Linked DNA regions of Homo sapiens. The protein of the gene in region 3 interacts with the protein of the main gene of each other region in a pairwise test. Each region holds a gene or a part of one and is shown on either strand. Other genes may lie near its edges.

Region 1 (3,861 bases), on a different chromosome or scaffold from region 3:
GGTGCAGTGGCTCATGCCTGTAATCCTGGCACTTTTGGAGGCCAAGGCGAGACCAGCGTGGCCAACATGGTGAAACCTCTTCTCCACTTAAAATACAAAAATTAGCTGGGTGTAGTAGCGCACGCCTGTAGTCCCAGCTTCTCAGGAGGCTGAGGCAGGAGAATTGCTGAAACCTGGGAGGCAGAGGTTGCAGTGAGCCGAGGTCATGCCCACTGCACTCCAGCCTGGGTGATAAAGCAAGACTTCGTCTCAAAAAACAAACAAAACGTTAACATTCAGAGGCAAGCGATGGGGTCTATGAGATAGTTCATTTGTGTTGCTGCTGAACCAGTAAACAATGCCAACAAGAACAAACCTGGGAAGCGGACCTGGGCAGGCATGCAAAGAATGTACACTCTACCCTCTGTGGCCTTGCTAAGCTCAGCTCTCGGTCCCGTCCTCTGTCCAGATGCCCCTGGCTATCATGTGTATAGTGTGTCTAGGTAGCCTCCGGAACACAGCCTTCTTAGTCTGCAGATTCCTGCTCTACATCAGGATGAGAAGTTTGTTAGTAATCACCTGGTTTTACAGAACTGATGTGTTACCAAAACATTTTTTTTTCTTTTTTTGAGGCGAGGGTCTCACTCTGTGGCCCAGGGTGGCGTGCAATGGTGTGATCTCTGCTCACTGCAACCTCAGCCTCCCAGGTTCAAGTGATTCTCATGCCTCAGCCTCCTGAGTAGCTGGGATTACAGACATGCACCACCACACCTAGCTAATTTTGGTATTTTTAGTAGAGATAGGGTTTTGCCGTGTTGGCCAGGCTGGTCTCCAACTCCTGGCCTCAGGTGATCCGCCTGCCACAACCTCCCAAAGTGCTGGGATTATAGGCGTGAGCCACTGCACGTGGCCCAAGATGACAATTATGATTATATAACATGACAGTAGGAACTTCCTGAGGCATAGGACTTGCAAAGGCAGTGACACATTTTTATATAAATTAACTTTTATTTCTGTAACATATAAAAGGTATAAATAGGACTTATGTAAAAACCAATCACCTGCACACACAAATTATGTGAAATTAGTTTATATATCTCTTTAAACCAGAGGGAGGAAGAAGCAGGATGAGGTCCACCTGGCCCACCATAAGTCCTTCCCCACATGCTGTCGTGTATTAATAGCTTCTGTGGCCAACCAGGGTTATCTGCCAGGCAGTGCCTCAGGATGGGGTGGGGGGTGGTGGTGGTGACGAGGTGTGAGGCTTCTGGGCATGGCTGTGAGGGAGGCACTTGGTGGGATACATGCCTGAGATGGAAACAGTCTCGTCCTCACCCAGCAGGTGGGACTTGTCGGTGGGGGACAAGCCAAGGGTCCCGCAGCTGCCAGTTGGCCCTCCTTCACATGCTTATCTGATGTGGTGCAGGAACAACAGGCGGAGGTGAGAGGTCAGTCCACAGAAGGGAGGTCTGAGGGAGCAGCCGCCACGGGTGTCCCACCCAACGCTGGCAAACAGTTCTGTGCACAAGGGATGCAGCTGAATGGTGCTGACGGTGGAGCTCACAGAGCTCCTGCATTCTCAAGGTTTGGATACATTCTGGGAAGGGTGAACTGGTGTAAGAGTCACATAATACGTGGAGGGGTGTAATAATCAAAAAAACGTAGCAAAACACCTTCTGTGCCTGAGCCAGGGTTGAGGGAGCCGAGAAGAAAGTCCACAGCTCTGCCACACGGGCCAGCAGTGCTCATGTCTGCTGGCTGATCCTCCCCAAAGCCTCTCCTGCCACCTTTTTTTTTTTTTTTTTAACTAAACTAAATGGTCAATACTGCCATCTCTCTTGATAATGACAAAGTGTTTGCACAGGATGCCTACAGGTGTGTGTGTCGCTCCTCACTAATGGATCCGTAGTCATATAGCTGTGAGAGGCACTCCTGGGTTGAAAATGAAGGCAATTATCACATTACTGTCAGTCCTGACTGAGTCACCTCTAGAGTTTATGCTTTCAGCCTTAATTGAAATGAAGACAATTATATAAAATTCTCACATAATTGATCACAAATGTGATCACAGCCACTCTTGACTAAGATTGGTGCCGGCCAATCTGCTGTGAGGGAATGAAGAGAGGAGAGGAACTGCGATGTCAGTCCCTGATTCTACTGCAAGTTTCCAAGCACATGAAATCCCATTCTAGCTTTGGAGACCCCAATGTGACAAGAATCTCCCTGTGCTTTAAATCATCTCTCACCCATGCTAAGCTGTGATCCCTCACCAAGTCTATGAAACCTGGAAAAGGAGTGAGAGTGCGCGGGGTGTGTGTGTGTTTTATATATTCAGGGGTCGTTCCAAAAGGGGCAAACTATTGCTCTTCGTGTGTGTGTTTTATATATTCAGGGGTCGTTCCAAAAGGGGCAAACTATTGCTCTTCGTGTGTGTTTTATATATTCAGGGGTCGTTCCAAAAGGGGCAAACTATTGCTCTTCGTGTGTGTGTTTTATATATTCAGGGGTCGTTCCAAAAGGGGCAAACTATTGCTCTTTGTGTGTGTGTTTTATATATTCAGAGATCATTCCAAAAGGGGCAAACTATTGCTCTTTAAGTCCTGGGGCAGGGAGGGGAAGGGGAGGCCACTGTCTGCTCCTGAAAGCTCTGTGGGGAGAAGGGCTCCCTGCCTGACTGTTCTCTCATTCACACGCCAGCTTACTGTCAAAGCTAGAAAGACCGATGCCAAAGGCCTGTACTGCACAAAGTGGGTAGTTGTAATCCAGTGTGAACACGTCATCTGCCACACGTCCAAACTGCATGACTATATAATCAGCTAGAAACAGAAAGAAATCAACATGTTAGAATATAATGTGGTTGCACTCAGGGAAATCTTTTTCTTTTTCTTCCTTTTCTTAGATGGGGTTTTGCTCTGTCGCCCTGGCTGGAGCCTAGTGGAATGACCACAGCTCACTGCAGCCTTGACCTCCCGTCCCAGGCTCAAGTGATCCTCCCACCTCAGCCTCCTGAGTAGCTGGGACTACAGGCAAGCGCCACCACGCCTGGCTAATATTTTACTTTTTGTGAAGATAGGGTCTCACTATGTTGCTCAAGCTGGTCTCAAACACCTAGGCTCAAGTGATTCTCCTGCCTCGGCCTCCCAAAGTGCTGGGATCCTATTTATGATACAGAAAGAATCCTCCAAATAGGCCAGTTAATCACCAGGTTTCTGTAGAATAGAGAGCAGCTTGCTGGGAATGTCATAAACTCCGCAGGCTAGAGCTGCCAGGAACCTTTATTGGGGTCATTTGCCTTTGTTTCCCAAACAACCTACTCTATGACTTCTCTGATTTTTTATTTTTTTCTGAGACAGGTTCTTGCTGTCACCCAGGCTGGAGAGCAGTGATGCAATCTCAGCTCACTGCAGCCTCGACCTCCTGGCTCAAGTGATGCTCCCACCTCAGCCTCCCGGGTAGCTGGGACTACAAGTGCCTGCCACCACGCCCAGCTAATTTTTCTATTTTTTGTAGAGATGGGGTTTCACACCATGTTGCCCAGGCTGGTCTCAAGCGATCTGCCCACCTCGGCCTCCCAAAGTGCTGGGATTACAGACGTGAGCCATGGTGCCCAGCCAACTTCTCTGATTTGCTATAGCATCTCTCTCACACTCCTCTCCCCTCCTCAACACAGTGATTTACAAGTTTTCTCTAAAACTGTAGTTTCATCTTTCCAAAGAAATCCTGTCTCTCCTCCATGATTATCTGCTGACTGTCACTTCCTATCATGTACAGGGAATGTGCATTCCCATCCTGTAAGAGCATCTGTCCTCCTCTTCCCACCCAACCCCTCCTGGAGGCTTACGGTCATTTTTGTGGACTATCTGGAAGTTCTTCACAGACGCC
Region 2 (4,487 bases), on a different chromosome or scaffold from region 3:
CAGTCCACTGATTCAACAGCTATTGTCCATGTACCCTATAGATATTGACCAGAGGATAGAGAATTTATTTGAGTTTCACCATTCCAACATAGAATAATCTGTGTGCAGATTTGGGCTAATACGGTGACTTCCACAAAACAAATCAGACAGGTAGAGGTCTAGAGGAAGATTAATTATTATTACTGTCAATAACAGTCGTTTTAGTATACACTACCCTTTAATCTGCAGCCCCTTGAAGACAGCAATAATAGACCCCTATCTGAACTGGAAGGAGGTGATCTTTTGAGACAATTGTTTGTGTGTTAAACTGATTTTAATGAGTATTTTTAAGGCAGGAGTCTTGAAAGCAATCCATTCTAGAGGCAGACATAATGTAGAATTTTTTTATTTTTGTACAGGTTGAGAGAAAAATGTTAAAAAGGTAAACTTCTATGTTTGGGGGATATAGAAGTTTTAGGTTGATGAAAGATAGACTTTTAATTTTTTCCCCCAGAAAGTAACATTTCTTTTGCATAAAAAAAAAACAGTCTGAGAGTATGCAAACAGTACACGTCAACACGGATTACATTCTGAAACCATGGATGCACACCTCACATTCCTGGAGTCATCTAACACTAGCATCAGCAGGTGGTCTTGACATGGTCCTGGACCCATTCTGTGTCACTGAATCTAAGCAGACAAATGGGCCTGCCTGGAAAATAAATAGAAGGAAGAAAGGATGGGAAAGAAGGAGGGAGGGAGGGAAGGAAAGACATTTCTGAATATGTTCCCAAGATGGTAATAACTGGCACCAGTCTATGTTGGTGGCCTTAATGGAAGCCTGTAGAGAATCTTCAGCCTGGGAGACTGAGCAGCTGTGGATATTTGATCATGTTTTCTGGTTAATGCCAAATCTCTGACACAAAGACCTGTTTATCTTTCCATTTTATGGAAGTGAGCCTGGAATGGAGTGTTGCAGCCAGGGGAGGATTACATCCTCTTTCATAAAGCAAACCCTGTGAGGGTTGTGGGATAAAGAATGCAGTTCCGACTATTTATGAGTAAATTCTCTCTTAGGATGAGCCACATGGGAGATAAAGTGAGGGAAAGGAAAGTAAAAACTTAGATTTTAGAGGAACATCACTTTCCTCTGGTTACAGAGGATTCAGGCAATGTTTATTAAGATGGTCTATCACAAATTTGCATACCAGGCATAGTGGAGATAGGAAAAGTCATGGAGGGTAAGATGCACGATCTTGCCCCTTGTCACGCAAGCTGGGGCTACATTTCAGACTCCAGAGCACGGGTCTGGCAAATGTTTCCTGTAATGGGCCAGGTAATAAATATTTTAGGCTTCATGGGCTATACCATCTCTGCTGCAACTATTCAGCTCTACCATTGTGCCATGAAAGCAGCCATAGACAATAGCAAATAGTGCATGTGGCCTTGTTTCAATAAAACTTTATTTAAAAAACAGCAGGAGGCTGGATTTGGCCCATAGGCCACAGTCAGTTGAACTCTGGCCATGGGCAGGCAAGGGGCAGAGCTTTGCGACGGGCTTCGAATACTTGGGCTGGCCTCTGGTTGCGGTGGAGACCAGCCTGCATTTTGTCCTCTCCAGCTTGAGAGCAGGAGCTGCACCTTCTTTGTGCTTCCTGGAGATTCCTGAGGAGTTCAGGGTGTTAGTATCGACTCTGGTTTATTGAATTGGGCTCTGGGTTCAGGCCTGGTGTTTCCAAACAGAAGTGTCAATGGGAAGGAGGACCAGGCCACTGGCAGAAGACGAGAGAAGCAGACATGGAAATAAAGGCAGACAACCTTTTCTTTTTTATTTCGCTTAGACAAAATGCAAAGAGTGTCTCATTAAATTAAAAAAGAAACAAGAGAGAAAACCAAATTGATTCCCCCCACCCCTTCACTGACGGCACTCATCCTAATTAACAACAAAAGAAGACCAAATTGAGAACCCGGTTTCTAATGGGAAAGAAAGGTGTGCAAACGTGACTGAAGTTTTCCCCTGCCCGCAAATCGGTGTTCCTTTTAAATTCACAAATAGGCTGATTTCCCACCCACCCTGTTTTCTTTCTTGCCTCTTGTGTGATAGAACTTCCAGTCAGAAGGTTTAATTAATCCCCCCCATGCACTTTTGTAGAAAATCAGTAAAAATGCAATAGCCTGTGAAGATCATAAAACTGGACTTCTTTCCCAAAAAATCAGATGCCCAGGCGGATGGAGCTCACACTCAGACAGAAAAAAAGCAGGAGAGTCTTTGCACTGTCTGTGGTTTCAGTATTTTCTCTTTTTTTTTTTTAATATATTTTGGCAATTTTCTTTAATTATAAATATTGGAATTCCGTAAAAAAAAGGTAGCTTTGATTGAATTGTTTGAATTGTATTTACAACCGCTGTCCAGTCATGCTGTCTGTTATACCAGGGTGTAAGATTTTGCGTAAGGATTGTTTCCTTTCAAATGGCCCCGGGAGTCGAGCAGTGATTCTTGGGAGCTGCTCATTTTAGCTGCCTGTCCCAGCTCTGCTCCCTCCCGCTGAGGTAATGTGGCCACGGCCCCCGGCTGCCACGACTGTCCTTCTCTCGTGGAGGAGGCGGAGGAGGCGGCTTCCATCGGGATGGGCTCCAGGACCGTGGGGCGCTTCAGGGTCCGGCTTTTCTGAGGTTCCAAGCATGCTTGTCCTAAGCTCAGGTCCCTGCTGGTGCCTGGACCACCTCGGTTTAACAAAAAGTCCATTCTAAGGTATGGAGGCAAATGTATGAGGTCACCTAGAAGGAAAGACAGGGTAGTTAGTTGGTGTCTTCATTTGGTAAACATGGGCAGAATGTCCTGTGTGCACACGGGAAGCCATGCGGGCTTTAGAGATGAGAATGCCGCTGCACACAGGTGCCTTTCTCAAGATCCTCCTTCAGCGCTCACCACAAAGACAGGTGGAATCGTCCTCCTACCTCCTCCCTGGGCGCGGGAGGAGCTCATTTTCCTACAGTACTTACTTACTTGTATTAACTTACTTGTACAGAAATGGAGGAATGGAGGTAACAGAATCCTTCAACACACCATCGTTGAAAGAAAAACATACATCAAAGGCATCAGTGTCCACTGGGTACGAACGGTGATAGACCAAACCCCGCATGTGATTGGAAGTACAGGGAGAGCACAGGGTTTGAGGAGAGAGCCAGGGACGCCAAGCGAAGATGGACAGCTGGCTCTCGTCCTGGCAATTCTATGAAACCTTGTGACCTTGGCCAGCCACTTAGTTATGGGTCTTCATGATGGCTTTGGGTGAAAGCGCCACAGCTTATGGCCTTCTTACCAGGCCCTGCCTACCTGCTAACTTCTGCGTGGCTCTTCTGTTTCAGCCATGCTGTGTATAGAGATGACAGCAGCTTAGACCAGAATTCTAGTGTTTCTACTTCCTGCTTATGGTCACTCTGGCTTCTGTGGTGCCACGCAAACATAACCTCAGGTCTCCTTCAAGAGCATCTGCTGGCTGGGCACGGTGTGCCTCATGCCTGTAATCCTAGAACTTCGGGAGGCCGAGGCGGAAGGATCACCTGAGGTCAGGAGTTCAAGACCAGCCAGGCCAACATGGCAAAACCCCCTCTCTACTAAAAATACAAAAACTAGCCAAGCATGATGGTGGGCGCCTGTAGTCCCAGTACTGGGGACACTGAGGCAGGAGAATCGCTTGAACCCGGGAGGAGGAGGTTGCAGTGAGCTGAGATTATGCCACTGCACTCCAGCCTGGGTGACAGAGCAAGACTCAAACAAAACAAAACAAAACAAAACAAAACAAACAAAAAACCCAAACCAAAACAAAAAAACCAAGAGCATCTGCTGCAGGAAGGGAGGCATGTGTTCTCTGGGATGCTGCAAGCCAATGACAAGCGTGACAGGGCTTTTCTCATGGCCGTCCCCGCCCGATGCAGGATCTCCCTAACAGGCATCCTTTGCTCAGGGATACCCCATCAGCCTCACTGCAGCCTTCTCAGAAGTGCACCGCAGCCTGACGTGCCTCCAACCAATCCCTCCTTCGCCTTCTCCTCTCACAGGTGTCGGACCTCTGTTATGGTCTCCAGACTCTCCTTGCCACCTCCTGCTTCCTTTTGCTTCCTTCTTCACAAGAATTTCCCCAATAAATTCCTTGTGTGTCTAATCTGTCTTGCTAGGCGCTTCTCAAAAACCTGAACTGACACAGCTTCTTTCACCATCAGCTACTGAAAGGTCACCCTGACCTCTCATTGCCAAATTCTCTGGTTTCCTCTTCGTCCTCTTCCTACCTGCATTACTATAGCATTTGATGCCGTTGATATTTTTGTTGTTGGCCCTTTCAGCTGCCAGGGCACTGTGGTCTTCCAGATCTCTGCCTACATTTCTGGCCACCCTTTCTCACTTTCCTTGACTGGATCCTTTTCTCTGTCTTTCCTCTAAATACGGAGTGTTCAGTGGCCTGCTCTCAGGCCTCTCTCGGAAGGCTTGGCTGCTTTCCTCATTGCTT
Region 3 (4,487 bases):
GTATTTTTGGTGAAAAATACAGTTTATCAATGAGAAGAAGCACATTTAAAAACATTTCTCCAGCTGGGCACAGTAGCTCAGGCCTGTAATCCCAGCACTTTGGGAGGCTGAGGCGGGTGGATCACCTGAGGTCAGGAGTTCGAGACCAGCCTGAACAACATGGTGAAATTCCATCTCTACTAAAAATACAAAATTAGCCAGGCATGGTGGTGCATGCCTGTAATCCCAGCTACTCAGGAGGCTGAGGCAGGAGAATTGCTTGAATCCAGGAGGTGGAGGTTGCAGTGAGCTAAGACTGTGCCACTGCACTCCAGCCCGGGCAACAAGAGCAAAACTCTGTCTCAAAAAATAAGATAAATAAAATAAAATAATAAATAAAATAAAATAAAATAAAATAAAATTTAAAATAAAATAAAATAAAATTTAATTAAAAAAAAAGTTTCTCCAAAGAATCAAACTAAATGTCCATCAATGACAGATTGGATGAAGAAAATGTGGTACATATACACCATGGAATATTATGCAGCCATAAAAATGAATGAGATCATGTCTTTTGTGGGAACATGGATAGAGCTAGAGGCTATTATCCTTAGCAAACTAACATAGGAACAGAAAACCAAATACCGCATGTTGTCACTTATAAGTGGGAGCCAAATGATAAGATCTTATGAACACGAAGAAGGAAACAACAGACACTGGAGTCTACTTGAGGGGAGAGGATGAGAGAAGGGAGAAGAGCAGAAAAGATAACTATTGGGTATTGGGCTTAATACCTGGGTGATGAAATAATCTGTACAACAAAACCCCATGAGATGTGTTTACCTATGTAACAAACCTTCACATGTACCGCCAAACCTAAAAGTTTAAAGATGTAAATAACATCTCTCCCAGATTTGCTTCATGATTTCTGCTTAAAAGACCCACAACATTAAGCGTTTCTGGGTGTGAAACTACACAGGCCTCTCTTAACCACAAATTGAGATGCCAAGCACAAAGAACCTGCTCATTAATATCAGGGTGGAAGTAACCACAAAGATAGTTGAGAAAAGCAGCAGACCACTACTACAGGCATTAGGTAAAAGATTTTTATTCTTATTTAACCATGCTGCATGTATACATACAATACCAATATATACAACTTGAACAAATACAATTTATACATAAAATACAATGAAAGCATGGCTTTTGAAACTGATGCAACAAACTGTAATTTGTAATTTTGGCCAGCATACAGTATTATAGTAATGCTACTGAAGTTATTCATTAAATTAGTCAGACTACAGTATAAGTTCAAAGGCACTAGAAACATCTATGTTTTCTTCTAGTATTTTTAAGAACAAAAAATAATTTAAAATAAAACAAATGTATACATTAGGAAATTGGGCAGACATTGGTGTACTTAAATGTAAACGCTACCCATTCCTTAATTCACAGCCCTGTAGGAAAGAAGACTTTCCTTAAGAGTTAAGGGGAAGGATATTAAAAACAGACTAAAAGGAAACAAACAAAACAAAAAACAACCAAAAACCATAATCATAGTTTTAAAAACATGTTACAGAGGAAGTAGCACCACCCCCTCCCCCAATAAAACCTTAAATTTTTGCTGTAAAAAGAAAAAAAAAACAACTCCCTTTCTCCAGAAAGGAAATGAAATGGCTTGTCAAATGGATTCTATTCATGGGGCAAACATGGAGATGCGACCCTTCCCTTGATTACTCATCTCATGCTTTATAAGAATCTAAACACAAATAGGAAACACGATGATAATTTTAACATCCTATTAGTATATGTAATTGTAAGGATTATTAAAGAAGATACTATAAACCAATAATTCTACCAATGCTCCTTTTAATAAATAAATATCACTTTTTAAATTAAAGGGAAAAGAGAATACCCATTCAATAACCTATTTATATATATGTGCCACTCATTTTAAATCTGCATATTTATTTCAAAAAATGAGCAAGTGTGTTCATCTATATCGTCTCACGAAATTAACACTGACCTTACAACATATTTCATTTGTGGACAAAGACACAGTAAATGTGAGGAAACTACAGAATTGCTATGACTGGAGCTAAATGAATAGCTCTGAAGTCAGTGTCCCATATTTGCATATAGATATTCAGACCAGGCTTGAGGCCAGGCGTGGTGGCTCACACCTGTAATCCCAGCACTTTGGGAGGCTGAGGCGGGCGGATCACAAAGTCAGGTGAGACCAGCCTGGCCAACATGGTGAAACCCGGTCTCTACTAAAAAAAAAATACAAAAATTAGCTGGGTGTGGTGGCGCAAACCTGTAATCCCAGCTACTCAAGAGGCTGAGGCAGGAGAATCCCTTGAACCCAGGAGGCAGAGGTTGCAGTGAGCCGAGATCGCGCCACTGCACTCCAGCCTGGGCGACAGAGTAAGACTCCGTCTCAAAAAAAAAAAAAAGATATTCAGGCCAGGCTTATGTATCAAATTTTGGTATTTCTGAGATGGATATTTAATGTCCATCTGGTATAATCAGTTTTAACATAATGCTTTTTTTAAAAAACTGCTATAGTAGGCGGGGTGTGGTGGCTCAGGCCTATAATCATGCCTGTAATCCCAGCACTTCGGGAGCCTGAGGCGGGTGGATCACTTAAGCTCTAGGAGTTCAAGACAGGCCCGGGCAACATGGCAAAACCCCATCTCTACAAAAAAATACAAAAATTAGCCGAGCATGATGGCATACAGCTGTAGTTCCAGCAACTCAGGAGGCTGAAGAGACAGAGGTTACAGTGAGCCGAGATTGTCCCACTGCACTCCAGCCTAGGTAATAGAGCCAGACTCCGTCTCCAAACAAAAAACAAACACCCCTGCTATAGTAGCCTGCTTTTAGAACTTCTCAATTGACTTTTTATAGATCGGCTTTTTATTTTGACTTTTTATAGATTTATTTTTATTATCATGGTAGGGTGGGATAGAAAAAATATCTAACATACTGGCTTAAATTTCCATGTTTTAAAGCTTGATTTAAAAGTTACTCCTTTCCTATTAACTGAATTGTTAAAGGTTAGAAACATGAACTTTTAAAAAGAAGCGTTTTTTTTAAACTGGTAAAATTAAGATTTCTTTAGAGTAATTACTAACAGAGTTAAATGTGTATCATCAAAAACATTTTATAATTACCAAAATATTCTGATCACACAAAGCTTTTACAAGACACATATTTACCTCAACTCTTCACAGTATCTAAACAATGCCCCACAGAGTTAAGTAATAAATTTCTAGCTATCTTACATACCACAAACAAATGCAGCCAGTGAAATGCAATTCTAATCACCTAGAAAATGTTCACCACACACAGGACATTCAGTATTCCAATTACAGAATGGACTTTAAATTTATGGGTACATTTTTATCGCCACCTCAAGAGTACTCCACCTTCACTCACCCCTACTCTATACACAGCTTTGTCATTTAAACTAGGATTTAACAAAACTTATTAAAATAATATTAATTTAATAAATACTAACTTATAAAGTCTCAAAATATTTTCAACCAATGTGTTTCAGGGCTGATTACATAATTTTGAAAACCACAAAACATATATTAAGTGGTTTAGGAGTAGCATAACTTTATTTTTATTTTATTTTTATTTTTTGAGGTGGAGTGTCACCCTGTCACCCAGGCTGGAGTGCAGTGATGCCATCTCAGCTCACTGCAACCTCCGCCTCCCAGGTTCAAGTGATTCTCCTGCCTCAGCCTCCCAAGTAGCTGGGATTACAGGTGTGCGCCACCACACCCAGCTAATTATTGTATTTGTACTGGAGACAGGGTTTCACCATGTTAGCCAGGCTGGTCTCGAACTCCTGACATCAAGTGATCCACGTGCCTCGGCCTCCCAAAGTGCTGGGATTACAGGCGTGAGCCACCATGCCCGGCCAGGAGTAGCATAACTTTAAAAAAATACAATAAAAGTTTCATAAGCAGCTAACAACAGAAAAAAATAATTATCTCTATTACAACTTACTTTACTATGAAATCAACATAGTTTTTATTTGTAGAGGAATATGGTCTAACTGGATTACCCAATAGAAGAAATTCAGAAAATAATATTTTATTTTTAAAATAGAAAAACAAAATAAAAAAGTGTTTTAAAGGCAAAGTATTTAAAAGATATTTTTCTTGCTTAGCTGTATTTTCTGGAAAATGGAGACTCTTCTTAACTGGGAGACATAAAGTAATTCCCACCAAAATTTAGAACTCAAAGAAAAGCATCCATAACACTTCAGAGTGAATTTTTAAAAATATACACGCAGGCAAAGATAACTGAGCAGTATTTAGCTTCTTAATTTTCCGCAACAGTAGATCCTTTATATTTACGTACAATTCAATGTTTCAAGAGAACATGAAACCAGAACTTAAGGTGTATTTGATTTGAACTCAAACTGGCAAAAAAAAGTTAGGAAAGGTTCAGATGAAACATTTTCAACTTGTTAAAAAACATGTATACTCGCA
Region 4 (4,487 bases), on a different chromosome or scaffold from region 3:
CCAGCTGGAGACTGGCTTGGCGGGTTTTGTGTTGACTGGCTTATTTGTCTGTCTTATTTTCCAGCCAGAGCCCATACTAATCTGTGGTTAGAGTTGGTGCCACTTTTAGTTGTACCCTGCCTTGTCCCACAGCCTTTAAAGTGTCTTGTGAAGGTCCTCTAATAAGGCAAGATTTTTCTTTATAGCGAGAAAAATGAAGCTAAGAGAAAATTAGACACAAAGTGTTTGCCATGAAGCCTTAGTCTGGTTAGTCAAAGCAGATTTGGCTCTGAACTTCCCAAGGCAAAGAAGGAAACAGGAGGAGCTCTATTAGTGGAAAAGCAATTCTAGTGCAGAAGTGACTGCACAGGGATATTGACACCAGACAACAGTTTCTTCCACGGTTCCCTAAAGACAGGAACACCATCGGCCGGGTGCGGTGGCTCACGCCTGTAATCCCAGCACTTTGAGGGGCCGAGGGGGGCGGATCACGAGGTCAGGAGATGGAGACCATCCTGGCTAACATGGTGAAACCCCATCTCTACTAAAAAATACAAAAAATTAGCTGGGCGTGGTGGGGGGCGCCTGTAGTCCCAGCTACTCGGGAGGCTGAGGCAGGAGAATGGTGGGAGGTGGAGCTTGCTGTAAGCCGAGATCACACCACTGCACTCCAGCCTGGGCGACAGAGCAAGACTCCGTCTCAAAAAAAAAGAAAAAAGTAGACAGGAACACCATCCTCAACAACATGCTTTCTCTAAATGTAGCAATGACTATCCCTGGGGCTAGTTCTTTTCTTTTTTTTGAGACAGAGTCTCACTCTGTTACCCGGCCTGGAGTGCAGTGGCATGATCTCGTTACTCACTGCAATCTTTGCCTCCCCGATTCAAGTGATTCTCCCACCTCAGCCTCACAGGTGCACGCCATCACGCCTGGCTGATATTTGTATTTTTAGTAGAGAGGTGGTTTTGCCATGTTGGTCAGGCTGGTCTCAAACTTCTGGCCTCAAGTGATCTGCCACAGGGGCTATTTCTTAGACTCTTCCTCAACAAAGCCCAGTGGCCAAGGAGTACCATTGAGCCAGCTGTGACTCAGCCTTTGAAATGTGCTCAGTAGCTGCAAGGACACCTGCCTTTTCAGGTGGGGTGTCTCAATTTAAGACTATAAAGGCAGGCTGATTGCGGTGGCTCACACCTATAATCCCAGCACTTTGGGAGGCTGAGGTGGGCGGATCACCTGAGGTCAGGAGTTCAAGACCAGCCTGACCAACGTGGAGAAACCCTGTCTCTACTAAAAATACAAAATTAGCCACGCATGGTGGCACATGCCTGTAATCCCAGCTACTCAGGAGGCTGAGCCAGGAGAACTGCTTGAACCCAGGAGGCAGAGGTTGTGGTGAGCTGAGATCGCACCACTGTACTCCGGCCTGGGCAACAAGAGAGAAACTCCATCTCAAAAAAAAAAAAAAAAAAAAAAGACTGTACAGTCAGAGGGCCAGGCAGGGTCCCTTGTGGGTTTAGAGTCAGACAGACCTAGACAGACAGCCAGACCTGATACCAGCTCTGCTACCTACCTGCTGTGTGAGACCAGGTGAGTCACTTCACTGAGCCTCAATTTCTTGTTTATAAAATGGGGTGAGCCCACTTTGCAGAGTTCTGGTGAATATTAGTGCTAAACTACACAGTGCTCAGGACACAGGGGCCTTTGAAATTGGTGGCTGTTAATATTATTTAATTAGCCCAAGAGGTGTATTATCTTCCTAACAATGTATATTCTCTTGACCACCTGTGTGGGGGCAAGACAGTCTACATGGTGACAAGACAATAGTCCATGTACTTGCTTAGTGTGTCAATACTGTGCTCAATGCCACAATACTTGAGATGAAGTGTGGGTGGCAGGTGGCAGCAGTAAGAGCAGTGACCCCAGCATTACCTGAAGCCTCTGGACAGGATCGGGCTCCTGGCTGATACTCCAGACCCTGTTGGAGAGATCATTCATGATGTCAAGTTGCTCTCTGCAAGAGTCAGCTTGTTCCCTGTACACCTGGAGGGTAAGCTGCGTGTTTTTATCAATGAATTTCTTGGCCAGCGCTTCCTCTTCGTCAAGTAGTAATCTGAGTTCAGTGAATTTCCCCTTCAGCCAGGTTTTACTTGACTCTGCATTAGCCTAAAAACAGAAAAACCAGTTGCAGATGACATGTCTGCCAACCAGGAAATCCAGAATAATCAACATGAAAAAAATCATAACGTCTGAAATGTGAGTTCAGTAAAGTGGCCAGTCAGACACAAGATCAACTTATAAAAACCAAAGCTTTCCTAAGCACCAGCCCATCACCGATCGTAAAATGCACGGAGAAATAAAGATCCTTTTGAAAATGGGAGAAAAAATAGCAAAATATGTGGAAATATACCTAATACAAAACCATATTCGTGACTGGGAGGGTTGATTACTATAAAGTCACTATTTGTCTCTAAATTAGTCTATAAATTTGATGAAATTCTAATCAAAATCTTAACATGCTGATTAAAAATTATTAAATCATTAGGAGAGAGAATAAGCATAAGAAAAGCCAAAATTGCTTTAAAAAAATCAATAAAGAGAAAACTGATAAGAGGTTATCTGCCTTATCTGCCTTATCTGATAACAAAACAATAAATCTACAGGATCTAAAACCATGTGGCTCAAGCATAGATAAGAGGTCAAAAGTACAAAATAAAGAGCTTTTAAAAGAACTCAAATTATATATGGAAATGTATGTATGTGTATGTGTGGTGTAACAGTGGCATTTTAGAACAAATTTTTGTATTTTTTGTACTAAAAATATAAAAGTAAAAATAATTAAAATAATATGAGATTTTCCACAATGAAAGGTTAAGGAAAACAAACAAAAGAGAAGGTCCAGTTAAACTAAAACACTGTACATAAAGCCCAAAGAATAAATCAATTAGATGAAATACAAAACAATTTTTATTTATTTATTTATTTATTTTTATTTTTTGAGAAGGAGTTTCACTCTTGTCCAGGCTGAGTGCAGTGGTGCGATCTTGGCTCACAGCAACCACTGCCTCCCAGGTTCAAGCGATTCTCCTGCCTCAGCCTCCTGAGTAGCTGGGATTACAAGCACGCACCACCACACATAGGTAATTTTGTATTTTTAGTAGAGACGGAGTTTCACCATGTTGGTCAGGCTGGTCTTGAACTTCTGACCTCAGGTGATCCACCTGCCTCAGCCTCCCAAAATGCTGAGATTACAGGCATGAGACACCATGCCCAGCCCAGAAAATAGTTTTTGATCATTAGATTGGAAGACTTTTAAGAGACTGAAATACAGTCTGTAAGGGTATGTGAAGTAGGGCATTTATATAAACTGTGGGTGGTAGGGTCTATTGGTACTTCGCTTTTAGAGGACAATACGACAATAGCTATCAATTTTTTTTTTTTTTTCAGACGAAGTTTTGCTCTTGTCGCCTAGGCTGGAGTGCAATGGCAAGATCTCGGCTCACTGCAACCTCCGCTTCCCGGGTACAAGCGATTCTCCTGCCTCAGCCGTGTAGCTGGGACTGCAGGTGGCCATCACCATGCCTGGCTAATTTTTGTATTTTTAGCAGAGACAGGGAGTCACTGTTGGCCAGGCTGGGTCTTGAACTCCTGACCTCAGGTGATCTGCCTGCCTTGGTCCCCCAAAGTGCTGGATTACAGGCATGAGCCACTGCACCTGGCCTCAAAGTTTTAAATACATTTATTCTTTCATGCAGCAATTCCTCTTACTTTACTTATATCCTAGAAAATGCTTTCACATGTGCATGAAGATTTGTGTACCAAGATTCTCAGTATATAGCTTCTACACATAGAGAATAGAATTGGGCAAGTGTAGTGGTAGGTGTCTGTAATCCCAGCTACTTGGGAGGCTGAGGCTTGAGAATCACTTGAGCCCGGGAGGTGGAGCTTGCAGTGAGCTGAGATCAGGCCGCTGCACCCCAGCCTGGGCGACAATGCAAGACTTTGACTCAAAAAAAAAAAAAAAAAAGAAAAGAAAAAAACATTGAAAAATGGGCGTCACTAGCAGAAACAGAAACAACAGCAGTGGGGAGCGAACGTTCTGAGAAATAGGGTCAACCACAAACAGCTCACTAGCACTCAAGCATCCTGTTACAAGCACTCAACTCACAGTCCACCTGCACCCAGGCATCCTGTCTGCAAGCATTCAGCTCAAGCAGCACAACCTTAGAAAACTCCACCTCCAGCTCCTGCCTCTTTGCAGACAGTCTTCTTTCTGCTGTCTCACCCATTGCTCCCTTTCAATGTATCTCCCCCTTTTCTCTAAATAAATCTGCCTTTCTAAACTCAATGCTGTTTTGGTAAATTATTTTATTCCCCTGTGCACCAGCCTCAGACAGTTGTTAACCATGACATATTTGGCACAATTTTCAATATGGGATATGTATATCGGTTCATTATATAAATTGTCCTACATTCGTACAATGAAATAATTTATAGCGATTACAAAGAAT
Region 5 (4,487 bases), on a different chromosome or scaffold from region 3:
GGCTGGGGGCCTCATCCTTAAGTGAATCGGGGAACCTGCAGCGTTGGTAAGAGCCATTGATTGGTGTGGTGCTATCACTCCTGTTGCCTGGAACATGCTAAACTTGCTTATTTTACTGCCATTTGATAGCAAAGATTTAATTTCACTCTGTAAAACTCCCCCGACTCAAGTAGTTTATTTTGCAGCTAGAGATCCATTATTGCATTAGGCTTTACCCAGTTAGAGTCAGTGTTAGCTTTGTTTTGCCTGCAAACCTCTGATTACTGTCAAATTGAATTAGATGTCTCCCTTTGCTGATCACTGATTGACTTTTCCTTAATTTCCCATTCATTTTTTTTCCCCATTTCAGTTGTTATAGATGAAGTCGATTAAATGGTTTTGTGTAATCAAGAACGGCATTCCATTTCAGTATTATCAACTTGTAAGTATGGAGCTTGTAAGTCAGGGGGTGGATGAAAACAAGCTGATAATGAGCTGGTATTTGAAAATTGAGAGGGAGCTTAATAGGAAACCTTCTCCAAGGTGAGGTAGCTTAAGGGCTCAGGGTTTTCATGGAGGGAACCTTGATGGCAGAACTTGGGAATCAAGGTGTCAGATGATGGTAGGGCACACACCAGGGGTGTTAGTTTCCTGCAGCTGCTGTAACAAATGACCACAAACTTGGTGGCTTAAAACAACAGAAAGTGATTCCCTCACAGTCTGGAGGCTGGAAGTCCAAAATCAGTCTCATTGGAGATCAAGGTGTCAGTAGGGCCACGCTTCCTCCAGAGACCTAAGGGGAGACTTGGACTTTGCTTCTTCTCCCAGCCCCTGGTGGCTGCCATGGGCATCTCCTGGGCTTGTGGCCATGTTATTCTCTTGTCTCCGTCTTCACTTTGCTTTCTTCTCTGCTTGTCCATCTGATCCCCTCCGTCTTTTAAAGACATTTTTGATGGCATTTAGGACTCACCCAGTTAATCCAGGACAGCCTCCCCATCTGAAGACCATTAACTTCATCATGTCTGCAGAGTCCCATCCCCCTAAAGATGACATTTTCAGGTTCCAGGGATTAGGATGTGGGCCTATCTTTGGGAGGCCATTTTTCGACTTACCACACTGGGCCTGCTTCACGGAAGGCCTTGGTACGACGGCCCAAGGCCTGGGCTGGACTGAGTGGTATGAGGTTGAGGGGCTGGACTGAGCGGTATGAGGAGGAGGGGCTGGACTGAGCGGTATGAGGAGGAGGGGCTGGACTGAGCGGTATGAGGAGGAGGGGCTGGACTGAGCGGTATGAGGATGAGGGGCTGGACTGAGCGGTATGAGGAGGAGGGGCTGGACTGAGCGGTATGAGGATGAGGGGCTGGACTGAGCGGTATGAGGAGGAGGGGCTGGACTGAGCGGTATGAGGTTGAGGGGCTGGACTGAGCGGTATGAGGAGGAGGGGCTGGAATGAGTGGTATGAGGATGAGGGGCTGGATGGGGTTTCCAGGGGGTATTTCCCCAGCACCATAGATCACCTCATTGCCTTGTCCTTTCACCTTCAGGAAAGGGAGGAGGATGGGCTAGAGAAAGAGCAAGAAGTGAGAGAGTGGGGAGAAATGCTTGGAAATACTGCATTTGCACAGAAGTTGGAAGGTACAGGAAGAACTGCCTAAAGAAAAGCCTAGCATGCACCCTTAAGCCTGGCATGTGGGAACCAACACCAATTGTTAGGATGACTGTAATCGTACGGCTGTGATAATGAGGTCTAGATTCATGGAAAGAGCCACCTGGGCTGTCCTTTCTGTTCAGAGTGGTCTGCAGTGTAGACACTTGCTAACCAATTGTGGAGCTTCATAGGGTCCTATTTTGACATAGCTCATGGAGGTGCAAAACCCTGATATGGGCTGGTTCAGCCCTGGGAGTGGAGCCTGAGAGGGAGTTCGTGAAGACTCTGCTCTCCGTGGGTCTCATGGACGTGCGGGAGCAGAGGGGACGGTGGAGTCAATGAGGAATTGTCAGAGGCTCCTGAGACTACGCTGAAGGGCTAGAGTGAGGAGGAGAGAGAGGCTGCCGGTGAAAGGTGGCGTCATTCCCCACTGCCAAGGAGGGTCTCTCCATGCCTGGAAATGCGTCCCAAAGGGCATCAGATAGATTCCTTATATTTTCAGGGAAGCTATTTGTTCCTTGTGGCTGCTATAACAAATTACCACTCTGGTGGCTTAAAGTAACAAATTGATTCTCTCACAGTTCTGGAGGCCAGAAGTCTTAAAAAGTATTGGCAGGGCCACGCTCCCTCCAGAGACTCTAGGGGAGGATCCTTCCCTGCCTCTTCTGGCTTCCAGTGGCAGCCAACATTCCTTGGCTTGTCGCCCCTCACCCCAATGTCTGCCTCCTTCCTCCTGTGGCTGCCCCCTCTGCTTATTTGTGTGAAAACTCCTTCTTTCTCTATTTTATAAGGACACTTATGAGGACATTTAGGGCCTACCCAGGTAATCTAGGCTAATCTCATCTCAGAATTCTTCACTTAATAACTTCTGCAAAGACCCTTTTTCCAAATAAAGTCACATGATCCAGAGATTAGGCCATTATTCAACCTGGTACAGGCAATTGAAGAACTCAATAAGGTATCTTAACTATAATTGTGTACTCTGTTAAAAAGGCAGATTGTATTACTGCTGGGCCTTTAGACTTGTTTGTTTACAGTACTTGTAAGAATTTCATTGCCAGAGGGTGTAATTTTTTAGATACTGCCACACGGAGTGGAGCAAAGACAATGCCTAATTGTACTTTTCAGCATTCTTTTTTCTCCACCTCCCCAAGAGGATGGATATGAAATATGTGTGTGTCTATGTGTTTTTGGAGGGTAACAGTTAACAAAGCTGTTAGTTTAGCATCCCTTGAACTACTTGGGGCCAGACACAGCCAGAGTGTAACTTTACCTCCTGGGGGCTGAGAGCATCAGCCCGAGCTGACTTGAGGTAGTGCAGGCCCCATGCTGTGAGGTGTGGATGGCAGGGGCTCTTCTAGCCTGTCTGGTCCCCTTGGGGGCTGATTGACTCTTTGTTACTCCCATCTTTGGATTAAGGGCCTGAACCTCCCTATTAAAATGAGACTCTGGGCTGGGCACGGTGGCTCATTCCTATAATCCCCGCACTTGGGGAGGCCAAGGTGGGCGGATCACTTGAGGCCAGGAGTTTGAGACTAGCCTGGCCAACATGGCCAAACCCTGTCTCTACTAAAAATACAAAAATTAGCTGGATGTGGTGGCGGGTGCCTGTAATCCCAGCTACTCAGGAGGCTGAGGCAGGAGAATTGCTTGAACCCGGGAGGCAGAGGTTGCAGGGAGCCGCCAAGATTGTGCCACTGCATTCCAGCCTGGGCCACAGAGCGAGATTCCATCTCAAAAAAAAAAAAAAAAAAAAAAAAAAAAGAAGGAGACACTGCTCTATAGAGGAGATAATACATTATGCTGTTTATAGCCATCTTTGCTTTGGTGATTCCATTGGTTAGTCACTATTAGTCACTTGCTGTTTATGAAGCGCTGTGTGTCGTGAAGGGGGAGTGGTCCCTGCATTAAGCCATGACTTACATCTTACTGCAGATGCTGTTGTATAGGGACGTAGGGAAGGAAGGTGCGGGGGAGTCTCTCTGGTAGGGAGGTTAGCCTCTGAAGGACCTGGGGTTGGGGGCTTGAGTGGGGGAAGGGGGTGGCTGGAGTACCTGGAGAGTGATAGAATGCATGTCCCAGGGAGTGACAAGACATGCCAGGAGGGAGAGCTGGGAGGAGTTGGGACCGGGTGGTGGTGGGGCTGATGGAGAAGATGCTTGGGTGCTCCCATAGGCAGCAGTGAGACCTCAAGAGCTTCTGCAAGAAATCAGAGTTCTAGACCCACTGATTTGGAGGCAGAGTGTAGAATGAATTCAAGAGGCCAGGAGGAGCCTCAAGAAGAGGTGACATCCATGCCTTAGTTCACCCTGGGGGTGGCCAGACTTTTATTGATTCGTTCACTATTTTGTTTAATTTAAAGTTTGCCTTTAGTTTGGACTTTTTCCCTTTTTTGTTTTCTTTTTGTTTTTTAAGGTTTTCTTCAGCTTTATTGAGGTTTAACTGACAGATAACCGCGTGTGCTTATAGTATGCAGGTTATGATAAGTGAGCATGTTGTGAAATGGTTACCATGGTCAAGCTCATGGACATGTCCATTACCTGACAGGGTTATCAGTTTTGTGTGTGTCTTGAGAACATTAAAAAATCTCTCAGCAATTTTCTTTCTTTTTTTTTGAGATGGAGTTTTGTTCTTGTTGCCCAGGCTGGAGTGCAATGGCACAATCTCTGCTCACTGCAACCTCTACCTCCCAGGTTCAAGCGATTCTCCTGCCTCAGCCTCCTGAGTAGCTGGGATTCCAGGCGTCCACCACCACACCCAGCTAATTTTTATATTTTTAGTAGAGACAGGGTTTCGCCATGTTGGCCAGACTGGTCTCGAACCCCTGACCTCAAGTGATCCACCCGCCTTGGCCTCCCAA
Region 6 (4,487 bases), on a different chromosome or scaffold from region 3:
TCTCCCCCATCATCCCACTCCCCAGACGGGCAGAATTTTTTGGTTTATTTCATTTACTGATGTACACTAATCACTAAGGCACACAACTATGAGTTCAAAATGTATTCAAGAGAATTGGAAGAACACATGAGTGAGTGACTAATTGGAAGACCTTGCCACTGGGACTGAGATAATCATTAAAATCAGTTGGCTAAACATTGTTATCTATTGGATGATAAAGAGCAGCTTCTGCAGCAGCTTTCTCCTTTTCATAAATTGCCATACCATACCAACCCCATCCCCCAAGTCTTTCTTTATATATAGCAATGCTTTCACTCAGGTTGTGGTCCAATCTCAAGACCAGGAGGCTATTTATTCTTCATCTTTCCAGTGACTTTACACTGCTCTATTCTGATCCACTCTGCAGGGGTTTGGAGCTTAACTGTGAGAAATGCCTCTCCCAGCAACCCCCACAACGGGCTAAGGCCTTTCAATATACGTAGTCAAAACATTAGATATTCTTCATAGCATTTATCACAGTCTATCTTACATATTTGCATGATTATTTTATTACTGGCTCCCCCACTAATTCAACTATAAAGTTCTTAAGAGTAGTGTCCATGTCTGTTTCATTCATAAAGCTTAAAGCACTTGGCACACAGTAAATATTCAATAAGCATTTGTTGAATGAATAATTAGATGGATGAATATGAAATTCCCAGCCTGAATCTATAAATAGCTAGATAGTCATTTAGGTAGCTGAGATAGGATAGGGGAGTGGGTTGTGTTTGCTTTTTGAGGGGAGTAAAAAGATAATGTCAGGAGTCCTTTGTGAAAGTCGGATTTTAGCCACCTGAAATGCTATGTCCTCTCAAGCAGCTCAAAAACCAAACCACCATTAATATGTCCACCTGGGGCTCCCCCTCCCACACCTACTCCTTTATTCCGGTCAAGGGTCTCATCATCATTCTTGTAGACACTCAGACACAAAGGCTTTGAGGAGCTTTTGACCTCTTTTTTTCTGTCAACCTCCTTGCTCAGCAAGACTCCTAAGGCCTGTCAGCTCGTCTTTAACATCTTTGATCAATGGCCTTTCCTTTCCATTCCCGCTGCCACAAACTTAGTTCAAGTAACTACCCAATTATGGCAACAGACTCAGAAATGGTCTCCTTGATTCCCACTTTGCTCCTGTCCAATCCATGCTGCCTGTATTGAAATCTCCCTAAAACCTTCATGTTGCATAATTAACGCTATACTAAAAAACATCTGCAAAGGCTTGCCCGGAAAATAAAAACCTCAGCCTGACATTCAAAGACCGGACACAGTATGGTTCCAAACAGCATTCCTAGACTCACCTCCCATCATCCTAGCATTTTCTACAGAACCATCACTAACAAGCCTAGTTAGTATTACTCATCACACATATTCACATATTATACGTGTTCCCAGCCCCATGAATGTATCCTCCCAGTCTTATCAACTCATCTGAAAGTGAATCCCATCTATACCCTCAGGCCTAGCTCAACTCCCACCTCTTCAAGTCGTTCCAGGGCAGCCCAGCCTAGGCTGCCTCTTCCTCCTCTGAATTCTTATGACTCAAACTAGCATCTTCTTTTTTTTTTTTTTTTGAGACAGAGTCTTACTCTGTCACCCAGGCTGGAGTGCAGTGGCGTGATCTCGGCCCACTGCAACCTCTCCCTCCTGGGTTCAAGCGATTCTCCTGCCTCAGCCTCCCGAGTAGCTGGGACTACAGGAGCCCGCCACCACACCCGGCTAATTTTTGTATTTTTAGTAGAGACAGGGTTTTACCATGTTAGCCAGGTTGGTCTCAAACTCCTGACTTCAAGTGATCCGCCTGCCTCAGCCTCCCAAGGTGCTAGGATTACAGGCATGAGCCACCATGCCGTGCCATTTTTTTACACCATTAACTCTAACTTACACATACACATATACACATAACTTTTCACCCTTAATTTCATCTTATATTTATCTGTTATTTAAAAAAATGAAACAGTCACAAGAAAAGAGCATCTGCTAACAAATTCAAAGAAATTCCATCCTGTATAGGACAGACAGGTCCTATGTAAGGCCCTGTCTCCAGGTCATCGACTCTTCAACTCTTCCAATACTTTTTGTGTTTTTGTATTGACCACTTCCTCCCCCTTCCTAAATATAGGCCAGCTTTGAGAATAAGAAGAAACGAAGGGGTCTATCCAGATTAGGGAAGAAAAAGTCCCTTGACAAATCCAGAAAGTGTTCTTAAAATGCAACCACTTGAGTTGTGGGGACTATTCTTTCCCCATCTTGATTAACTCCTTAAATAACTAGGAGCCAGCATCATCATCATCACAGATACCACTTCTTTAGAGGCTGACTAGATGCTGGGCATCACAGGAAATACAAGGAGGATATTGAGCAAACCTGGCCCTAAGCAGTGGTCCTGGGGCTAAAAATAAAAGAATTCCACAACAAAGTCTACTGAGGCTGGTAGTCCTGGCACACCAACTTGAAAACGAAAGAGACAACAACAACAAAAAGGCTATTGTGAGGATTATAGGAGTTTAATGCTATGCTGAAGTGCCTAGCACTAAATAAGTCTATGTTCCCCAAACCATCTCCCTGTTTTAATATACTGCATATTTATCTCTACACTACAAACTCCTTGAAAGCTGAGATCATAGTTCGTAGTTGTTTTGTAACTAATGAATTAGCATAAAGTGCTTTATCAATGTAAGGAATCACATATTAACAGTCCAAAACTCTTGTTATAAATATGGAAAAGAAATATAATGCCCACAAAGTGTTCTAAAGAATTATATAGCTCTAGTAATCAAAATTTGGTTATATTATTATAGAAAGTATAAAACAGTTTTTGGCCAGGGGTGGTGGTAATCCCAGCACTTTGGGACGCCGAGGTGGGCGGATCACCTGAGGTCAGGAGTTTGAGACCAGCCTGGCCAACGTGGCGAAACCCCTTCTCTACTAAAAATACAAAAAATTAGCCAGGCGTGGTGGTGGTGGGCACCTGTAATCTCAACTACTTGGGAGACTGAGGCAGGAGAACTGCTTGAACCCGGGAGGTGGACGTTGCGTGAGCTGAGATCATGCCAGCCTGGGCAACAAGAGTGAAACTCCGTCTCAAAGAAAAAAAAAAAGTAAAGTATAAAACAACTTTAAATATCAAATACATAGTTAATATATTCTAATGTTTTTTATGGCACTTGTTAGATTCCCCATCTTCATTCATATTTTGAATTGTGAAAATCTGAAGAAACAGATTTTTCTCCTTACTTGCAACGCTAGTTTTGGTAAGTTTGGAATTAGCATACATTAGATCCAGCTATTGCAGATATTGAAACAAAACCTCATACTCTATTTGCCTATGTAAGAAAAAGTTCAATTTTCAGAACTTAGAATTTTAAGTTAAAAAAAGCAGTATGAAAACATAACCTTAAAAAATTTGCATACTATTTTACCCCCGCAAATATTGTTTTGATACCCAGTCCTGCAATGACCTTTAAATAATCAGAATAAAGTTTCTCACTATTCAGAGAGCCTTAAGATTTACTTGGCACTCTAAGTTAACCATCTTAAAGCTTTGAAGCACAAAGGAATAGTAAATGACACATCCATTTTAAGTTACCATGGCCTGTCATTACAGAATCATTAAGCAATATTTTCAAGGAGCAAGCAGAAAGCTTTATAACTCAAACGTATAAGATTTTCTTCTGTGCTTTATGGGCTAAGTTATTTGCGTTCTCATAAGAATACGGAATATTTAAAGCCACACTTTACAAGTTATAAAATTCACTTATTTTCAGCATTCTTCATAAAGATAACAGCATAAATTAAGTTATAAAAACAATATGAAAATTCAATAATCAAACTCAAACTCTGTGTAATGTATTTACACACACAAACACATAGTAACATAATTAAGAGGCTGGCTAGCTTAGGGCACATAGAAAAATTATTCAGAAAAAAAGTATTAAATATCTTTAAAGATAAAGATTTTTGGCCAGGCACCATGGCTCATGCCTATAATCCCCCATTTTCGGGGACCAAGGCAGGAGGATTGCGTGAGCCTAGGAGTTCAAGATCAGGCTGGGCAACATAGGAAGACCCTGTCTCTCTCAATCAATCAATCAATCAAATTAGCCAGGCATGGTGGTACACACTTGTGGTCCCAGCTACTCGTAAGGCTGAGGTGGGAGGATCGCTTAAGCCCAGGAGGTCAAGGCTGCAGTGTGTTGTGATAGAGCCACTGCACTCCAGCCTGGGTGACACAGTGAAACCCCCCTCAAAAAAAAAAAAAAAAACAAAGTAAGATTTTTCATATTTTACTGTTTTTTGGCCAAATGGATGTGAAGGAAAATACATTCTCTATATTACATATTTTTTTAATCTAGCTGCAAACTTGTATTAAAGAACCAATTTCAAAGTGTATAAAATAAACTGATTAACTCAAACCTATACAACTCTTACGCTGATCAGGTCCTTTGTTTACA
Region 7 (4,487 bases), on a different chromosome or scaffold from region 3:
TTACTTGATGTTGAAACATCTGTTGCCGTCTGTTGATTTGTAGATTTTAACTGTTCTACTTCAGTTTTGAGTTCTTCACACTGTGAACGGATTTGTGACTTTTCCATTTCCAGCAATTCAACCTAACAAAAATATAAATGAGCTTTATAACTGTAAAACTTAAAAATACTAATGGCAAAGTGAAATTTCAAGCTAATATAGAGAACCTGCTTGATAACATTATCAACTATCAAAAAACAAATACACAAAGAAAAACCAGTAGTTTTCTATAAACAAGGCTTCATTCGTTTACAGCTTCACTTCTACATCTTTTTACACTGAGAGAATACAACATATTACCACTTGATTTAAAAAAAAAAGTGGTACCTAGAAAATGAAAAACCAGCCGGGCATGGTGGCTCACGCCTATAATCCCAGCACTTTGGGAGGCTGAGGTGGGCAGATCACCTGAGATCAGGAGTTTAAGACCAGCCTGACCAAAATGGAGAAACCCCATCTCTACAAAAAATACAAAATTAGCTGGGTGTGATGGCAGCCGCCTGTAATCTCAGCTACTCGGGAGGCTGAGGCAGGAGAACTGCTTGAACCCAGGAGGTGGAGGTTGCGGTGAGCTGAGATCACGCCATTGCACTCCAGCCTGGGCAACAAGAGCGAAGTTCCATCTCAAAAAAAAAAAAAAACAAAACAAAACAAAACAGAAAAACCAAGATACTAATGCCTAAATTATGTTAATGTCACAGTGGTTTTTATTTCTTGCATACTCATCAGCTTATAATTAAGTTACAATAATGAGTTTATGCTTTTTATAAACAGATGGTCCCTGACTTACAACGGTTTGACTTTATGATTTTCCAGCTTTATGATGGTGTGAAAGTTATATGCATTCTATAGAAACCACACTTTGCATACCAATACAATCATTCTGTTTTTCATTTTCAGCACAGATTCAATACATTACATGAAATACTCAGTATGTTGTAATAAACCAGACTTTGTGTTAGATGATTTTGCCCAAATGTAGGCTAACACAAGTGTTCTGAGCACTTTAAGGCAGGTTAGGCTAGGCTAAGATTTTGGGAGGTTGGCTGTAATTAAATGAATGTTGGAGTTAATGCTGTTTCCAACCTATGATGGGTTTTTCAGGACTGACACCATCATAAGTTGAGGAGCATCTGTATTTTGTCATTCAACTCCTGAGCCAAGACATCAAGATTAGTGTTTGCATGAGTAGCAAATATTCCCAAGGAAGAGACAGCACAGCACCACACCATGGTTCCCAAACTCTTTTTAGCAGGAAAATCCTTTCAAAGGCCTCACACACAAAAATGTATAAAATAGATTAAAAGGAGCTACCTGAATTTGAAGTAGGGGCATATGAAGAAGCTACTGATATTTATCATTTGTCTCTTGGTATTTATCGTTTTTCTCCTTCTTTCTCAGTAGAAGAACCCATGCATAAAGACTGCATTTCCCAGGCACCCTTTAGCCAGATGACTCAGTTCTGATAGTCAGAACACAAGCAACTCAGGCCAGGCATGGGGGCTCACGCCTGTAATTCCAACACTTTGGGAGGCCAAGATGGGTGGATCACTTGATGTCAGGAGTTTGAGATCAGCCTGGCCAATGTGGTGAAACCCTGTCTCTAATAAAAAGACAAAAATTAGCCGGGCATGGTGGCATGTGCTGTAATCTCAGCTACTCGGGACGCTGAGGCAGGAGAATCGCTTGAACTCGGGAGGTGGAGGTTGCAGTGAGCCGAGATTGGGCCACTGCACTCACTCCAGCCTGGGCAACAGAGCGAAATTCTGTCTCAAGAAGAAGAAGAAAAAAAAAAAAAAAAAAAAAAAAAAAAAAAATATATATATATATATATATATATATATGTATGTATGTATATTAATCAAAGATTTTAAAAGGGATAAGTCAGTTTCTCTCAGGAATCTTGAAAGACATAATCTAGAAAAATGAATGACTCCATAACTAAAGGATTAACTATACTTAAAAGCAGAATTGATGCCCAAAAAAGAACATAATTAACTGTATTAATGAGGTATTAAGTTAATATTGGTATTCTGAACAGGACATTTACCATACCTGGCTACCCCTAATATTTTTCAGGAATGCACATCTCAAGACATTGGAAGAACCAAAAATGCCCCTACACAATTCCATATGCCTCCAGGAGGCCCTCTCCTCAGTTGAGAACCAGTAGAATAACAGACACTCAATAAGAACAGAATTATTTTTAAGTGAAAGCATTCCAATCAAGCAATTGGCAGCTTTTTTTTGAGACAGAGTCTCGCTCTGTTGCCCAGGCTGGAATGTGGTGGTGCAATCTTGGCTCACGGCAGCCTCCGCCTCCTGGGTTCAAGTGATTCTCCTGCCTCAGCCTCCCACCACCACGCTAGGCTAATTTTTGTATTTTTAGTAGAAACGGGGTTTCACCATTTTGTCCAGGCTGGTCTCGAACTCCTTGACCTCAAGTGACTGACCCACCCGCCTTGGCCTCCCCAAGTGGTGGGATTACAGGTATGAGCCACCGCGCCCAGCCAACTGGCAGCTTCTTAAGGTTTAAATGGCCCTGGACTCCATGACTACATGTTGGATGATATAACTCACCTCACTTTTATACTGGTCCCTCTCAATACTGCATTTGTCCAGTTGTCTAAACACATCGTCAAGCTGCACAGCCATCTCATCCATTTCACTTTTACTCTCATTATTGGAACACTGGCTGCATTCAGCCTTTACATGTTGCAAAGCACTACATTGTTTTTTCAGCCTTTCTATTTCTTCCAAAGCTTGCTGATACTGAGATACCATATGGTCTGGACTTTCAGATTTGCCATTAATACTTTCAAGTAAAAATACAGCATCGGTTTCAGTGGACTGATGGCAAGTTTCTTTCTTAACATACTTGTCATTCATTTCTAGTATCCTCTGTTGTAACACTTTGATTTGATCAGTAAACATATGACACTGTCTTTTATAATTCTCTTTTTCCTCAGTGACAAGGAGTAGCTGGTTTCTCAGTTCTTGTAATTGGCAGCCTGCATCATCTGCAGATTTATCGGTGGTTTCCTGGGTTTCATGTATCTTTGCTTCAGCTTCTACACAGGAGGGCAGAATCACTGCATCATTTCTTACGTCTATCTCGTCTTCAACAGTTTCTTCTTTTTTAACAACTAAACTTGGTACTTCAGTCTGGGTAGCTGCAGTATTTCCCTGGTCGCATCGGGATGATGAGGTGCTTGTTGAACCAGTCTGGCCACAAGGTTCACTGTCACCCACAAACTCAACCTGAACACCACCTTGCTCAACGTGACTCTGTTCTGATTTCATGTCAATATCATGATCTACTGCAGGTTTGGGGGTACTGTTTTCTTCTAAGATGATGACATCTTCATCATCATCATCACCTTTATAAACTGAATTTTCAAACTGACTACTCAATCTCCGATTCTTTGCATTCAAAATTGAGGAACGAGTAGAAAGTCTCCGTTTCAAGCTGAAAAAAATTTTATACATAAAACATAAGATTATAAAATATGGACAAAATAGATGACCTTGAAGTAATCATTCTAACAAATGCAGTATTGTAACAGTTTTTTTGTTTTTTGAGATGGAGTGTCACTCTGTCGCCCAGGCTAGAGTGCAATGGCACAGTCTTGGCTCACTGCAACCTCTGCCTCCCAGGTTCAAGTGATTCTCCTGCCTCAGCCTCCTGAGGAGCTGGGATTACAGGCACCCGCCACCACGTCCAGCTAATTTTTATATTTTTAGTACAGATGGGGTTTCCCCATGTTGCCCAGGCTGGTCTCAAACTCCTTGAGCTCAAGCAATCTGCCTGCCACAGCCTCCCAAAGTGCTGGGATTAGACACATGAGCCACTGTGCCCAGCTATAAGTTTTGCAATACTAAGAAATACCCAGGCTCATTTTTTAAAGTGACGCATTGTATAGTACCAATCACTGATTTAATGAAGTAGAGATTATTTTCTCTTTTTACAGATGAAGACGATGGACTATTGAGATCTCTTTGAAGTACCAGATCTATTTACTGCCAAACATCTCTGCATTTGATCACCTCCAGGCATTTCAATGTACACATTTCCAGAACAGAATGCTACCCACCCCGGCCCCTTCTTTGTATTCTTCAGCTCAGGGAATGGCACCACCATTTTCATTTGCCCATAATAATTTTTATCAGTAATCAGTGATCAAAGATAAGCCATAAAGCAAACCAGTATTTATCCTTTCATATGAAATAATTTTATCTGAATTAAAATTGCCCCAATTTCTTCATTTGCATCATTCCCTGTTCATTCATGTTAATATGTGCATAGTTCACATTTATTTATCACCATTTGATTGCCTTTTTCCACACTTGGAGGAATATTTGTACTGGTTTGCTATTTGGGCCTTGTGTTAGACCTCCTAGATCTCAGGAAGGATTTTCCTCTTTTTTGGACTGTCTCATATTGGGCG

Evidence for each region.
Region 1: the proteins of KIF3A (region 3) and TULP3 interact in a two-hybrid assay, tested with the Homo sapiens proteins (one large-scale study listed by BioGRID and IntAct).
Region 2: the proteins of KIF3A (region 3) and DSCAM interact in a two-hybrid assay, tested with the Homo sapiens proteins (one large-scale study listed by BioGRID and IntAct).
Region 4: the proteins of KIF3A (region 3) and TRIM14 interact in a two-hybrid assay, tested with the Homo sapiens proteins (one large-scale study listed by BioGRID).
Region 5: the proteins of KIF3A (region 3) and HUNK interact in a two-hybrid assay, tested with the Homo sapiens proteins (one large-scale study listed by BioGRID and IntAct).
Region 6: the proteins of KIF3A (region 3) and PLEKHA5 interact in a two-hybrid assay, tested with the Homo sapiens proteins (one large-scale study listed by BioGRID and IntAct).
Region 7: the proteins of KIF3A (region 3) and MORC3 interact in a two-hybrid assay, tested with the Homo sapiens proteins (one large-scale study listed by BioGRID and IntAct).

What each region holds. Positions count from the first base shown.
Region 1 is NC_000012.12:2,938,245-2,942,105, reverse strand, and holds the end of TULP3 (tubby-related protein 3), read right to left. Parts: coding exon 3,821-3,861; intron 2,796-3,820; coding exon 2,662-2,795; 3' UTR 1,577-2,661; coding exon of another isoform or gene 1,380-1,576; 3' UTR 968-1,379; downstream 1-967. UniProt on the Homo sapiens protein: Negative regulator of the Shh signaling transduction pathway: recruited to primary cilia via association with the IFT complex A (IFT-A) and is required for recruitment of G protein-coupled receptor GPR161 to cilia, a promoter of PKA-dependent basal repression machinery in Shh signaling.
Region 2 is NC_000021.9:40,010,630-40,015,116, forward strand, and holds the end of DSCAM (cell adhesion molecule DSCAM isoform CHD2-42 precursor), read right to left. Parts: intron 2,758-4,487; coding exon 2,405-2,757; 3' UTR 370-2,404; downstream 1-369. UniProt on the Homo sapiens protein: Cell adhesion molecule that plays a role in neuronal self-avoidance. Promotes repulsion between specific neuronal processes of either the same cell or the same subtype of cells.
Region 3 is NC_000005.10:132,691,560-132,696,046, forward strand, and holds the end of KIF3A (kinesin-like protein KIF3A), read right to left. Parts: 3' UTR 1,072-4,487; downstream 1-1,071. UniProt on the Homo sapiens protein: Microtubule-based anterograde translocator for membranous organelles. Plus end-directed microtubule sliding activity in vitro. Plays a role in primary cilia formation. Plays a role in centriole cohesion and subdistal appendage organization and function.
Region 4 is NC_000009.12:98,098,023-98,102,509, forward strand, and holds part of TRIM14 (tripartite motif-containing protein 14), read right to left. Parts: intron 2,143-4,487; coding exon 1,909-2,142; intron 1-1,908.
Region 5 is NC_000021.9:31,917,792-31,922,278, forward strand, and holds part of HUNK (hormonally up-regulated neu tumor-associated kinase), read left to right. Parts: intron 1-4,487.
Region 6 is NC_000012.12:19,135,693-19,140,179, reverse strand, and holds part of PLEKHA5 (pleckstrin homology domain-containing family A member 5), read right to left. Parts: intron 1-4,487.
Region 7 is NC_000021.9:36,368,009-36,372,495, reverse strand, and holds part of MORC3 (MORC family CW-type zinc finger protein 3), read right to left. Parts: intron 3,509-4,487; coding exon 2,620-3,508; intron 123-2,619; coding exon 1-122.